Linked DNA regions of Homo sapiens: region 2 is linked to region 1. The links come from fine-mapping of genetic effects on gene expression. Tissue or cell type: skeletal muscle. Region 1 holds a variant in brackets; the other region holds the start of a gene. All regions are shown on one strand. Distances are between the middles of the regions.

Evidence for each region. PIP is the estimated chance that this variant, and not a neighbour inherited with it, causes the effect.
Region 2: it holds the start of PDCD11, and the variant in region 1 is fine-mapped to the expression of PDCD11 in skeletal muscle (GTEx, PIP 0.92).

Annotation. Positions count from the first base shown.
Region 1 is chr10:103,449,214-103,451,918 of GRCh38, forward strand. It overlaps CALHM2 (calcium homeostasis modulator family member 2), which reads right to left. Exons shown (of 4, transcript NM_015916.5): 2 at 1,870-2,072; 3 at 174-886. The coding sequence starts at 728. Among named protein-coding and RNA genes, the nearest start is that of CALHM2, 1.8 kb to the right of the region's middle. RefSeq lists enhancers at 1,830-2,199, 2,148-2,705. The variant G/GC (reference allele first, on the strand shown) is at 1,256.
Region 2 is chr10:103,395,216-103,397,970 of GRCh38, forward strand. PDCD11 (programmed cell death 11) reads left to right here and starts at 1,411. Exons shown (of 36, transcript NM_014976.2): 1 at 1,411-1,515. It overlaps ATP5MK (ATP synthase membrane subunit k), which reads right to left and starts at 1,260. Exons shown (of 5, transcript NM_001206427.2): 1 at 1,194-1,260; 2 at 531-817. RefSeq lists enhancers at 523-1,355, 748-837, 988-1,237, 1,895-2,396, 2,397-2,755.

The DNA of each region.
Region 1 (2,705 bases):
AACTGGCCCTTGCCCCACCATGCACCAGTTAACCAGCCCTGATACCTAACGCTAGTGCTTTCCCACAGACCTCAGCCCCTGAGGACCAACCCCAGCTTTAGCACTAGGCCATCCCCGGACCTCTCACCAGCCACCACTAGGGAAGAGGAGCTTCCCTTTGCACAGCTCCTTACCTGGGACTCATACCTGAGCCTGCGGCTGACCTCCTCCCGGAAGTCTGACAGGTTGTCAGGGTTCTCCTTGCAGGGGAACCTGGCCAGGATTTCAGTGGCGTGGGCTGATGGGAAGTGCTCTTCCCTGGCCGTGAGTGAGGAAGGGTCCACGAACTCACTGAGAGCACAGACATAAGCCTCACCACGCAGCAGGGAGATGACAGACCAGGTGACAGGGGCCACAGCCGCACGTCCCAGGATGGAGCTTAGAAGGAGGAAGGTGGGGGCGGCGGAGCAGTTCTTGGTCCTCCGGTGCTGGCACTCGGCCACGAGGTTCCAGGTGTGGTTGTTGAGGATGATGCCAATGATGAAGAGCACCAGGGCGGGCACGCCGATGGCCGCCAGCCCGTACAGGTAGTTCCGGGCCGGCGAGCAGGGGCAGTGGAAGGCCACCACAGAGAACAGCTCCTGGCTGCCCACCGTGCCCAGTGCCACCAGGCCGTTGAAAATCATCACATCCTTGCTCTTGAAGAAAAGTGACAGGAAGCGGAAGTTCTCTGCGATCAGGGCTGCCATGGCGATAGTCGTGGCGGGGTGGATTGCAGGAGAGGAGGCAGGAGGAGACGGGATTGATGGTTGCTGGTGGTACTAGGAAGGGGCACAGGCTGGGAGGCGCTGGACGGCAGGGTGTGGTTGTGCTATTTTATCCCCAGCTGTGGTTGGCCTGGTGTTTCCTGTGGAGCAGATGACCGATAAGTGTTTCCCTCTGAAAACCAGGAGTTGAGGAAGATGCTAGTGTGGACAGGCTGGGGAGAAAGGAAGGACCATAGGGCCCCAGGGAAGTGACAGTTGCCACTGTTCACTGAGTTCCTCCAGGGTGCATGGCACCCCTCATTTCCCATCCTCACAGTCCCACGTTGAGCTGTGTGCCCGCCGTGCACTAGGGAAAGTGAAGGCTTCCTGAGGACGAGTGGCTCGCCAGGGTCACAGATGAGAGGCAGACTGAGATTCAAGCTTGGGTGACCTGCCTCAAATGCTTAGGTTCTTTTTGCCACCACGAGCTTCTCCTGGGGTAGGGCTTGGGGGTGGCCCATGGTGCTAAT[G/GC]CATGTGGGGTGCTGACCGGCTTTCCCTCTGGGAGTCCAGGTGGCGCATATTAGCAGAGGGGCCAGGGACTCCTTGGATCCAGGGCGTGTCCTTAGGGTCTCAGCCTTGAGGGTGTAAAAGCTAAAGTGAGTGTCCGGGTGGATAAGGGACTTGGATAGGATCCTGCCGTGTGGGCTGGGGTGGGTACAGCAAGATGCCAGAATCCCTGGAGTTCGCAAGGACATTATCTTTTTGGAGACCTCAGGGTCTGATCACACTTCATGACTGTTCTCTGGGCCTCAGATTCCTCATCAGTGAAAAGAGGATAAATCATCCTGAGCCTTGCTCTTTCCTAGGGATGTTGGAGGGAAAGAAAAGAATAAAAGATGCCTGATTGTGCTCTGCGTGAAACTCTCCATCTCTTCCACCCTGTCTTGTCTTTGGGGTGGGGACGATTCTCCTGCCTGCAAAGATCAGGGAACTGAGACCTGAAGAGGATAAAGTGCCTTGCTGAGGCCCAAGAAATACAGAGGTGCCACAGCAGGACCTCTAACCACAACCTAAGGAGACTTGGGAAGTGGATAAGGGTGATTCTGCACTAAGTGAACCCTCTTTTTTTCTGTCTCCTACTGACCTTGCCGTGTCCATCCACGGGTGTCCCGAAGAACCTCCTCTTCCGCAGCCGTGACCCCTCTCCTATCCAGCAGCCTCCCAGCAGCTCCGCTCCACCCCGCCTGCCAGCAACAGGAAGCCCTGGTGAGACCAAAGGCTCAGCGGTGCCACCAGCTCATCCGGAGATTATTCTGCCTTGGTCTGGGCTGTAGCGACGCTGGCAACCTGCCGGGAAGTGGCCATGGCCTCGGGCAACAGCGAAGTTTAGCCCAACTCCCTTCCCAGCCTCCACCCACACAAGCCTGAGAGACAGGCCAGGGTGTGGCCCCATGTCCTCCCCCTCTGGAGGGTGAAAAACAAAACTCCCCAGGCCAGAGGAAGCCAGGGAGTGGAGGGATGGGGTGAGCGCCAAACACAGACCTAGCCCTGTTCCCTTCCATGCTTCATGGAGGGATCACCCCTTCTAGATCACCCCTTCTGTCCCTGCCAAGGAAGGCTGCCAGATGGGCTCAGGCAGAGCCATGTGGCCATGCAGACTCCAAGAAAAGGAGAAGCTGGAGGAGGAGGACCAGGAGGAACAACAGGAGGAGGAGGAGGAGGAGGAGGAGGAGGAGGAGTCTGATTCTTCCCCCACTTCACAGCCTGGAGCTTCCAGCCTAACTTCCTGGGAAAGGCAGTTTGCATCACTGCTGGGGAAGAATGGGTTAAAGTCAGCCCCCTTTGCCCCATCCTTTTCCCTTCTTGGCTTCTAGGCTCCTAATTAGCTCCCTGTGGAGGCCCTGGGTTCATAAACTGGCTCAAAGTGGGGTACAAGATACCTGCACAGGGTGGGTGGTGAGCAGAGGATGGGCCAGGCCA
Region 2 (2,755 bases), 54 kb before region 1:
GGAACCCTTGTGTTTACAGTGCCCTTTGTAAGACTCCTAGTTGTGATTTAATGTTGTTAAACGGTGGTATGTTTTAATTAAGTTGCTAACTGCCCTTCTTGAGACAAGGTCTCGCTCTGTCGTCCAGGCTGGAGTGCAGTGGCGCGATCTCAGCTCACTGCAATCTCCGCTTCCCGGGGTCAAGCGGTTCTCCTGCCTCAGCCTCCCGAGTAGCTGGAACTACAGGCGCGCGCCACCACGCCCGGCTAATTTTTGTATTGTTGGTAGGGACGGGGTTTCACCATACTACTCAGGCTGGTCTCGAACTCTGGACCTCAGGTGATCTACCCGCCTCGGCCTCCCAAAGTGCTGGGATTACAGGCGTGAGCCACCGCGCCCGGCCACTAACTGCTCTTAAATGTAACTAATCCTTCCGTGCCTCTCTCCACCTGTGAGATGGGCACTTTATTAAAGGTCCAAAGTGACCAGTAGCTCTTGTTACTTTCTCTGTTCCTCGATATTGCTATTTTCCTTTCTAACTTAACACCTACCTGGAATGGTGAGATCACGAGGTAAGGAAGGCAAAGATGAGTGAGAACCACTCAGGTAACAGAAGCAGCCTCTTGCATTCACGGAGTTTACAGCTCTCTGTTCTGGTTACCTCCTAGGAAAGGCCTTCCCACTGATCGTCTATAGACTGAAATCTAACCCTTTTACAGCGGGCCTGGCGAACTGTAGGGGCCGGGCCACATTCACTCGCTTTGAAAAAGGCTGCAGCGCACCTAAAGGAGGCCCGGCTGGCCAGCTTCCTAAAGCACAGCTCGGTGGGAACAAACAGCTATGGACATACAGAAGAAAAGAGGTTAATTCGGCCGGTGATGGGGATCAGAAGCCCTAGTCCTCGTCCAATATTACGTCACTGGGTGACCTCGAGGGACGCTTCGCGGAGGGCCTCATTTTTCTCCACTGGCGAATGCAATCTAAGGGTCTTCGGAAACTGTGGGAGCCCTTGGGCGCACCTATCCGCCTCACCTCGAGGCTTCTCACCCGCTGGCCGCCCCCTTGCGCCCCTCGTTTTTTCTAGCTCCTTTCCCATTCCCCACCGTTTCTCTCCTCCAAAGCTAAGAACTCGAGTTGCTCCTCGGCCAGAAACGGCGGGCGGTCCTGCAACGTGCAGGCGCCAGGTCCAAGCCCGGACTCCCCTCTTCACCCACCTGCCAAAGCCGCAAATTCCGCAGCTGGTGTCCTTCAACGAATGTAACCACCTCTCGGCCCGGCCGGAAGAAGCCACCTCCCCCGCACGCGTTTAGCCGGCCCCCGCGATTCGGCCTAATGCGACGATTGGCTATGGCTCCAAATCCCGCCCTTCCGATTCCTGTCTCTAGGTCACCTCCGCAACACAGCAACGGAAGTAGGGTGTTGAGCCCGCCCACACTTCCGGAAGAATTGCACTGGACTGTGGGTATCCTGGTCTCCGCGTGTGTGAGTACCGCGGCGCGAGGTTAGTGGTAGCTGGGTGCAGACGCCGTGGCGCTGGTGAGTAAAGGCAGAGGCGAAAAAGGAGGAAACCTCATGGCTGTCAGGTCTGTCCCAGGCCTGGTTCCCTGCCAGGCACACGCTAGATGAGTGTGGTTCGGCCACCTTAGCCCCGCTTCGAAGCCGGCTCTGTTGTAGCAGCCCCTGTAACCCCAGGCTTTGTGTTCGGAAAGTAGCCTAAGTATCTTCTGTGCCCCTGGATCGCCTTACTTTTCAGAGCCTCAGTTTCCCCTTGCTTGAAAGGAAATTAAGGGTGAAATTATCAGCAAACTAGACCCCCCAAACTTTCCTGTTTCTATGAATCATATACCCATCCCTGATTCCATATCCTTGGCCCCACCCGGTCATCACTTCTTTAGTCTAAAGCCCTTGTAGAGTCTTATTACCAAGTGTCTGTCAGAACTAACCTCTCCTGTCTTCTGTTTTCACTTATACCCAGTTCTGGTTCTCATGGTTTCTCTGCTGTACTGCATTTGAATCCTTTTTTTTTTTTTTTTTTTCTGTCACTGAGATAACAGGAAACAGTGCATTTGAATCCTTCTACCGAATTTACTTGCCTTCAATACTGTCTCTCTTCATGTCCAATCTATAGCCTGCAGTATATTTTTCTTGCTTACTGTTCTCTCGCTTTCCCTGCTTAAGTCTCTGACTTGCCAAAGCAAACTACCCATATCTAATTCAAGGTCTTCCACAAAAAAGCCCAACTTCTCCTTTAATTTTTTTGAGACAGAGTCTCACTTTGTCTCCCAGGTTGGAGTGCGGCGGCATGATCTCAGCTCACTGCAACCTCCGCCTCCCGGCCTCAAGCAATTCTCACGCTTCAGCCTGCCTAGTAGCTGGGACTAGGCGCAGGCCACCACGCCCGGCTAATTTTTGCGTTTTTGGTAGAGACGGGGTTTCGCCATGTTGACTATGCTGGTCTCGAACTCCTGACCTCAGATGATCCACGCGCCTCGGGCTCCCGAAGTGCTGGCATTACAGGTGTGAGCCATGGTGCCCGGCCTTCTTTAAAATTTAACTTCAATTTTTATGCTTTAATCTCCCAGTGGTCTAGTTGAATAATTCCTCAGAGACAACAGCAAGCCTTTGAGCAGTTGTTTGATAGGGAAATTGCTGGTGTTTATTGAAATAATAGGCTTTTCCCATCCATGTCTTTTCTCACATTCCCTTTCTACCTGTCAAGCTTCTGTTCATCTTTTACCCTTAAGCTAAAAAAGATCTTCTTTATGAAGCTTGCCTC